3 separate regions of the Homo sapiens genome follow, and regions 1 and 3 are each linked to region 2. Evidence: fine-mapped expression QTL. A gene starts in region 2. Each other region holds a variant in brackets. All regions are shown on one strand. Distances are between the middles of the regions.

Region 1 (2,679 bases), 25 kb after region 2:
CTATGTGTCCTCACCAACCTGGGGTGAGTCTTTCAGCTGAAGTGAGAGGAAAAACAGAAACCAGAGAGAATTATCCTCATGACTCTCCCTGGTTACACAGAAAATGTAATCCAGCCCTAGAACAACTGACTGTTGGGAATGGCTTGAACAGTGGGTTATGGCAGTGCATGAGAAACCTGCTGCTCAAAATCAAGTTAAGAATACTCTTTCTCAAGACTCTTAGTAGACTTGTATCTACCAAGGCTATGTTGAAACTCCCCAGAGGAGGCATAGAATGTAGATGCAGGAAGTATCATTGTAGTAGAATATAAGTCTGGCATTAATGTGACTGGTTGAACTTGTTCTTGGTTACAATCATTCCTCTACATCTTAACCCCCAGCCTGGATGATGCCCAGTGGACATTGAGCCTGGGAGGGCCCTGGAAGCTGACTTGCATCCTTTCCACTCATGCCTCCTAGTGTTTGTAAAGTGCTTAACTTTTTACTTCTTTGCATGCAGAGAATCACAATGCTGTGTTTTCCGCTGCTGGTTTTAAAGACATTCGGTCCTATCGCTACTGGGATGCAGAGAAGAGAGGATTGGACCTCCAGGGCTTCCTGAATGATCTGGAGGTGGGTGATTTAGAGGAAAAAGTAGAGAATTGCATGGTGTCAGGAATCTCAGGCAAAGTCTTTGGACCAGTTGCTAAGTGAAGGAGTCTGAGACACCTTCCCCATACCTGATGGTGGTTTCTGACATAGCATGTAAGAGAGAGGGCACAAAAGAGACATGAAAGAGTGACAAGAATATGGTTGCCCTTTGCCCTCCATCACTGACCAATCTGCTGCTGACTCTGTCTCCCAATATTCCCATCAGTGTCAGAGCTGACATAGCTTCCTTCTCCTCAGAATGCTCCTGAGTTCTCCATTGTTGTCCTCCACGCCTGTGCACACAACCCAACTGGGATTGACCCAACTCCGGAGCAGTGGAAGCAGATTGCTTCTGTCATGAAGGTAACTGCCCCTTCAGAGCATCTCTTAAAAAATAGTATATATTCTTATTTAATGTATGTAGAAGCAATACCTGTTTGCTGTTTGCTGAGGAATTAGGAAAATGGAGAAAAGTCCAAAGAAGAAAATAAGTATTAACTGTAAATTTTATTACCTAAAGAAAGATACTGTTAATGTTTTGGTAGATAGAATGTCAGACTGTGTGTGTGTGTGTGTGTGTGTGTGTGTGTGTGTGT[GTC/C]TAGTTTTATGTATATGTTTTACAAAGATGAGATCATTTTGTCTGTACTGTTTTGTGCAACACAATTTGTTTTTCATTTTCACTTCTTTATATACATGTCATTGAATATTTTGCAGCATCATTTTTCATAGCTATATTATATTTCTTTCATGGATATGTCATATTAGGGATGGGGTAAATCATCTGATGAATATTTAGGTTTACTTCAGATTGCTTGATCTGATGAAAAATTATGTAACAAAATTTCCTTTTATTATTTCTTTGGCGTAACTTTCTAGGTGGGAATTCCTAGCTGAAAGTGTGTATATTCTTCCTTAACGAGTTTGTAGAATACTTATTAAGGAACTGCTGTGTATTGGACACTGTGGGAATACACTATTGAATGGAGCAGATGCAGTCCCTACCCTCAAAGACAGACAGCCTGTTTGGGGAGATGGACGAGTACTAAGGCAGCTGTGATGCTGTGAGATAGCTGTGTTGACAGTGTTATAGGGGGGTACATAGCCCAGACTTTGGGCAGTGTATATGTGGGAGTTGGCGGGTTGGTGGCAGGAACCTTCCTGGAAGCAGTGGTTTCTATGTTGAGTCCTGTAGGATGGGGAGGAGCTAAGAAGGCATCAGCAGACAGGGGTTGACAGGGAAGGGATGTGCTCTGCAGAGGACGGAGCATGGTCAGAAGCCCCAGGCAGACATCATGGGGAGTGTGAGTGATGAGGCTAGAGTGAATAGGGGCAGGGTCTGTGCTGAGGCTTGGACTTTATTCTCAGGGCAGTGCGGAGCCACTGAAATCTTGGATGTCGGGGAGTGACATGATTGGATGTGCATGGTCTTAAGGCCACCCTGATGTCATAGCAGGGAATGGGTCAGAGAGAGGCAAGACTAGACAGGCCGTGGGAGCAGTTAGGAGACCATTGCCATAGCCCAGGTAGGAGTTGATGGTGACCTGGATGAAGTAGGTAGCAGTGGGGACAGTGAGATGCAAAAGGATTTGGGAGCTCTGAAGAGACAGGACTGATGAGACTTGGGGAGTGCCAGGATGTGGGGGATGAGCTGCAGAGTTAGGAGTCCAGATTCCCCCCAGTCCCACCTAGTCAAGATAAACCTAAGAGATGGGAATCAAAGTACAACCAAAGATTTGGACAGTTCCGGGGAGGGAAGTGGTGTCCACTCAGAGAGCACAGCTGTAGAAGCAGGTTCCCTGTGGAGAGCTCTTTGAGGAGATGAGTGACAGGAATGGAGGCTACTCTGTTCCCTTCCTCTTGAGTACCTAGCAGAATAGCCCATGAGGAGCCCTGGGGATACCAAGCCTACACTTGACTAAGGCTCTCACGCCAGAAATTCACAGAGGAAAATCCACAATGTAGGACATTGTCTCCTTGCATCAAAAGTAAGCCCTGTTTCTCTAAGCTGAATTGGGACACTCTAGGACAATTTACTTTTAAAAAGTAAAG
Region 2 (2,679 bases):
CTGCATGTTCTGACTTGTAAGTGGGAGCTAAACATTGAGAACACATGGACACAAAGAAGAGAACAACAGACACTGGGACCTACTTGAGGCTAGAGGGTGGGAGGAGGGAGAGGATCAGAAAAAATACCTGTCAAGTACTATGCTTACTATCTGGGTGACAAAATAATTTGTACAACAAACCCACATGACAAGCAATTTATCTATAAAACAAACCTGTGCATGTATCCCGAACCTAAAATAAAAGTAAAAAAAAAAAAAAAAGCAGTTTACCATCTATGAAGGGTGTGGCAGATATGCAATGTTAATAATAGCTGACATTTAGAGAGTCCTTCTTACATGCAACTAACCACTTCGTAAATGTATTAACTCACAAACTCCCCACACCAACTCTGAGGAAAATACTATTATTTCCACAGAGCAGGAACTTCCACAGAGAGGTTAAAATAACTTGACTAAACCTGCCCAAATTCGTAAGCGGCAGCCAGAATCTAAACCTAGATAGTCCGGTCCCGGAGATAGGTTTTTAACCACAAAGGCATTTTCTAAAATTGTGAAAGTACAGAAGCACAGGAAAGAGACATTTTGGCCAGATAAGGGTTAAGGGAAGGCTTCATGGATGAAGTGGCATTCGCTCTGGGTCTTGAAGGTCAGCAGATGGAGAGGGCTCCTGGGGAGGAAGGACTCTAACGGGGAAGGAACAGCCTGACGAAGAGGAACTTTGGGTACCAGCCAGCTGACGACAGCAAGATCTGGTCCGGTGCGCGCGGGAGGAAGCTGGGAAGGGACGTCGCGCCCAGATCCCGAGGTCCTTGAGGACCAGGCCCTCTCTGCAAGGAATCGGGGAGGAAAATCTCAAACTATTAATAGAAGAGCGGCAAAAAGGAATTCGTGCGCACCCCTCTCTGTTGGAAGGACCTTCCCTGCCAGAGACCAAGGCTGGCAGGACAGGTATACTTCCCTCAGGGGGAAACAGCCGACAAAGGTGGTCAAGGTCGCCCGCGCAGGCTCCGGAGCTGCACGTCCTGGACGAACACTCCCGTCCCGAGCACAGACGCTGGGTATTTGGCTGCCAGCCCGGGCCCGCCAGGCCGGGCCTGGCACCGCCAACACCTGCTCGGCGGGAACAGGAAGACCTGTGTTCGGGAACTCCCTCCGGCCACCTCCCCGTATCCTCCTGGCCCTCGAAGGTCGAAAGGTGGCCTCTCAGGGACACCCGCCGCTCGCTCGGCTCCTCCCCTCAGCCGGGAGACCCAAGGAATAACAGCCTCTGCGATAGGAGCACGCTCTACCAATCAACCGTAGTCTTCGCCCACGCCTCAGCCGGAGGAAATTGCATTGGTTGCATCATTCTCGGCAGCCGATAAATTGTTTTCTTGGATTGGCTAATAGCGTTCCTTCTCCCCTGTGCCTTCGTCGTCAGAAGCTGGCGATTGGTTAATCGCGTTGCCAAGCTTTGGACGCGGCTCGACCATTGGAGGCCGCGGGCCCGCCCCCGCCGGCTAGGTGAAGGTGAGTGTCTCCTCCAGTCGCAACGGCCAGACCTGACCTGCCAGCTCCGGGCGTGGGGTGAAATCTCTTGATTCCTAGTCTCTCGATATGGCACCTCCGTCAGTCTTTGCCGAGGTTCCGCAGGCCCAGCCTGTCCTGGTCTTCAAGCTCACTGCCGACTTCAGGGAGGATCCGGACCCCCGCAAGGTCAACCTGGGAGTGGGAGGTAAGGATGTAGTGCTCTGGAGTGTGAGCAGCTCGGGGAGTGGAGCGGACCCAACCCAGGTCGTGGAGACTGTGGGAGAAGCCGAGGCCCAGTGTGGCGCTGCCTGAAGAGGGCGGCGCCGGAGAGGAGGCTGGATCCACGAAGGCTTCCTAAAACCTGCCCATTTTACAGATGCAGGTGTGGAGTCCCTGGAAAGGGGCGATGTGTCCGAGGCCGCACAAACCAGGTGTAGCAGCCAAGACACAAACTCAGTCTTTCCGATTCCCCATTCTGCCTTCTTTATACTGCATCCTCCTAAGAAATGAGGCTGCCGGAGCTTGTAGAGAGAGGTAGAAAAATAGGAAGCCTGATAGGCTTAGGGTTCTGGTTGCTAGGAAATGGGTAAAGGAGAACTTTTAACGCTAGAAAGCTCTGTTCTGAGTCGGTAAATATTTGAGTGACCACCGAGTATCAATCAGCCACCTTATTAAGCTTTGTAGGGGGAGACTGAGGCTTGATTTTGCCCTTAAGGATTTAAAAATCTGCTGGTGTTACACAATGCTTTGAGACAGGTTAATGCTGCCCCCGGGGGGTCTGGGGAGATGGTTCTGGCCGTCACAGATGTGGTAGGAATGGGTAGAGATGGTGGAAAGGAGTGGAGAGAAGTATGGATGGTAGAAGCTTACTTTCCACACATCCTATCTTCATTTCTTGATTCAAGTGATTCTCTTCTGTACCTTGGACAGCTCAGAGCATGGGCCTCAGTTTCCCCATCTGCCAAGAAGATTTATATTGGAGTGCCTCTCAAATTTTTTACCCCTAACCCTCTCTGATGAATTTGTTATTCTTCTCACTATCATTTGGATGTTTGAAGCCCCACAGACACTTATTTTCTCCATTTGGATTTTGCCACGTGCAAAGACCAGCCAGAGAGATGAAAATGGGTAGGATAAAGTCTTATGCTAGGTAATAGACTTAGAATAAAA
Region 3 (2,679 bases), 32 kb after region 2:
CTCAAGTGATCTGCCCGCCTCGGTCTCCCAAGGTGCTGGGATTACAGGCATGAGCCACTGCACCTGGCCAGAAAAGTTTTAAACATACAGAAAAGTTGGAGGAATTGTACAGTGAACCCCTATATATCCGCCACCTAGTTTCTACAATTCTCACATTACAATACTTCCTTTGTTATCTTTTTTCTGTCAGAATGGGGCTTTTAACCTGGAATCCCTGGATGTACGTTTAGGAGAACTGTGAAGCCCCTGAAATGATGTTTAAAAAATTGTATATGTGTATTTTGGCCCTGCTCTAGGGAAAGAGTCCATAACTTTTACTAGCTTTTCAAACTGTGACACTTCCCTTCTCTGAAAAAGTAGAAAGGCCTCATTTTTACTAAAACAAAACCAAAAGCCAGGGTAGGAGTCATTTAATCACTGCCTCAGGGCACAGGCTTTTAGAAAGAGTGGCACACCCAGGGCTGTGTTGGCTTGAGGCTCTATCCCCTTGGGTGACCAATTCACACAGGTAAACCTCTTCTTAAGCTTGCTTTCTTTGTTCACTGGTTTGGAGGGGTCAAGGGAAAACTTACCCTTTGCCCTCTGAAAGTTTGCTGGAAATCAGCTGACAAGAGGCAGATTAATAGGAGAAAAGGCATACAAATTTATTTATTTATTTTTGAGTCAGAGTCTCACTCTGTTGCCCAGGCTGGAGTGCGGCGTCACAATCATGGCTTACTGTAGCCTCAACCTCCCAGGCCCAAGCAATCCACCCACCTCAGCCTTCGTAGTACCTGGGACCACAGGTGTGTGCCACCATGCCCGGCTAATTTTTAAGATTTTTTTGTAGAGACAGGGTCTCCTTATGATGCCCAGGCTGGTCGTCAACTCCTGGGCTCAAGCAATCCTCCCTCCTCAGCCTCCCAAAGTACTTGGATTACAGGCATGAGCCACTGTGCCTGGCCAGCATGCAAATTTATTAACTTGCACAGGTGTCTTACAAAATAGAACTCAAATAAATGGCCAGATGATTGATGCTTTTATACCATCTTGGGGTTATAGAAAGAATGGGAGCTTGGAGCTTGCCAGAACAGATTATGGCAGGCAGAGAAGAGAAGGCCTGGTTAGCAAAGGTGGTCTT[G/A]TTATATTATGTAGATAAGACAGGTAGCAGCCCTCGGAGAAAATAGCGGTAAAGGTCTATTTCTTTTAGACCTTTAAAGGCATCACACTCTCAGTTAATCTCCCCTAGATCTGGACAAGGGAGGGCCTCAGAGAAAGCCTAGCTGCAGCCATGCAGATTTTCTCTACAGATACAGATCTCTCCCACAAAAGACAGCTTTGCAGGGCTACTTCTGTATGTAGGCCCTCTCAACAGCCATCTCAAAATATGTCAAAGTATATTTTGGGGTGAACTATTTTGGTTTCCTTCAAGGAGCACTGAGTCCAGGGTCCAGATTTTTCACTTCCTTAGAGAGGCACTGTAGCATCACGGGGGCAGTGTACAGCCCAGACTTGAAATCCTGCCTGAAAATCCCACATCCACCATTGACCAGCTGTGCAATCTCGGAAGGCCATTTAATGTCTTTATGGCCTATCTGTAAAATGGGCATGATAAAGTTATTATCAGGATGAACTAAGATGCAGTGCTTAGAACACTGCCTGGCACATAGTGTTTACTCCTCTGATTATGATGATTCTATTATTATTCCATTTCCTCAGGTTGGTGGTATCTTAAAGGTACTAATTACTTAAGCAATAATTCACTAAAATTCTTTTTTTTTTTGAGACAGAGTCTCACTCTGTCACCCAGGCTGGAGTGCAGTGGTGTGATCTCGGCTCACTGCAACTTCCTCCTCTTGGGTTTCAAGCAATTCTCCTGCCTCAGCCTCCTGAGTAGCTGGGACCATAGGCACATGCCACCACGCCTGGCTAATTTTTGTATTTTTAGTAGAGACTGGGTCTCAGCATGTTGGCCAGGCTGGTCTCAAACTTCTGACCTCAGGTAATCCACCAGCCTCAGCCTCCTGAAGTGCTGGGATCACAGGCGTGAACCACTGTGCCCAGCCAAATTCACTAAAATTCTATCAATGGATTTGCCAAATAGCAAAACTGCTTTAGAGACTGCTGTATAAAGGAAGTACAGGTAGTCTCTTCTTACCCACATGTGATGCATTTCTGAAAACATGGAAAAACTACTGCATCTGAGAGAAAGCTGAGAAATGAACAGAAGTCTGATGGTGCCAGGTCAGAGAGGTCTGTGTCATTTCTCAGCTCATTGGTTAATTCACACAGGATTGATCAGGTACCTCATGCATGGGGCCTTACCCAATGTATTGTAAAAATGAAATGTCAAAGGGAGGCTGCCGCGGGTACTCAATGCAAGTCCAGGTTAGGGAAGAACTAAAGGAAGCACTTCATAGCCAGCATTTCATATCGCTGTCCGTCTGATGGTTGTTTTTAGGTGATAGGGGTGTCCTGGTGGATATAATGTATAAGGCTTGGTTGGAAGGCAATCTCAGATTAAAATTCCCATCAGTAGTAGCCATATTGAATTTTCTGGGGATTCAAAGGTGAACTAGTAAGAGTACTTTCCAGAATCTAGTGAGCATATTTTTCTGTTTGTCAGTTGGACAAAATAGCGCCTTTTGTTTTGCTTCTCTCTGTTAAGGGGAAAGAAGTAAAGCTGTAATTGTCATATAA

Which allele goes with the higher level. Alleles are on the strand shown, and positions count from the first base shown. SD is a standard deviation of normalised expression in the study named.
In carriers of allele GTC in region 1, the expression in monocytes of the gene that starts at base 1,538 in region 2 tends to be lower than with C alone (moderate effect, 0.56 SD a copy in Quach 2016).
As copies of G replace A in region 3, the expression in monocytes after LPS of the gene that starts at base 1,538 in region 2 goes down (large effect, 0.83 SD a copy in Fairfax 2014).

What was found.
Region 1: its variant is fine-mapped to the expression of GOT1 in monocytes (Quach 2016, PIP 0.95).
Region 3: its variant is fine-mapped to the expression of GOT1 in monocytes after LPS (Fairfax 2014, PIP 0.95).

Annotation. Positions count from the first base shown.
Region 1 is chr10:99,404,070-99,406,748 of GRCh38, reverse strand. GOT1 (glutamic-oxaloacetic transaminase 1) reads left to right here. Exons shown (of 9, transcript NM_002079.3): 3 at 1-23; 4 at 500-612; 5 at 889-993. Among named protein-coding and RNA genes, the nearest start is that of GOT1, 25 kb to the left of the region's middle. The variant GTC/C (reference allele first, on the strand shown) is at 1,227.
Region 2 is chr10:99,429,483-99,432,161 of GRCh38, reverse strand. GOT1 (glutamic-oxaloacetic transaminase 1) reads left to right here and starts at 1,538. Exons shown (of 9, transcript NM_002079.3): 1 at 1,538-1,714. The coding sequence starts at 1,597. It overlaps GOT1-DT (GOT1 divergent transcript), which reads right to left and starts at 1,226. Exons shown (of 5, transcript NR_183993.1): 1 at 897-1,226. RefSeq lists enhancers at 958-1,387, 1,568-1,617, 1,638-1,697.
Region 3 is chr10:99,397,754-99,400,432 of GRCh38, reverse strand. All of the region lies in intron 8 of GOT1 (glutamic-oxaloacetic transaminase 1), which reads left to right. Among named protein-coding and RNA genes, the nearest start is that of GOT1, 32 kb to the left of the region's middle. The variant G/A (reference allele first, on the strand shown) is at 1,121.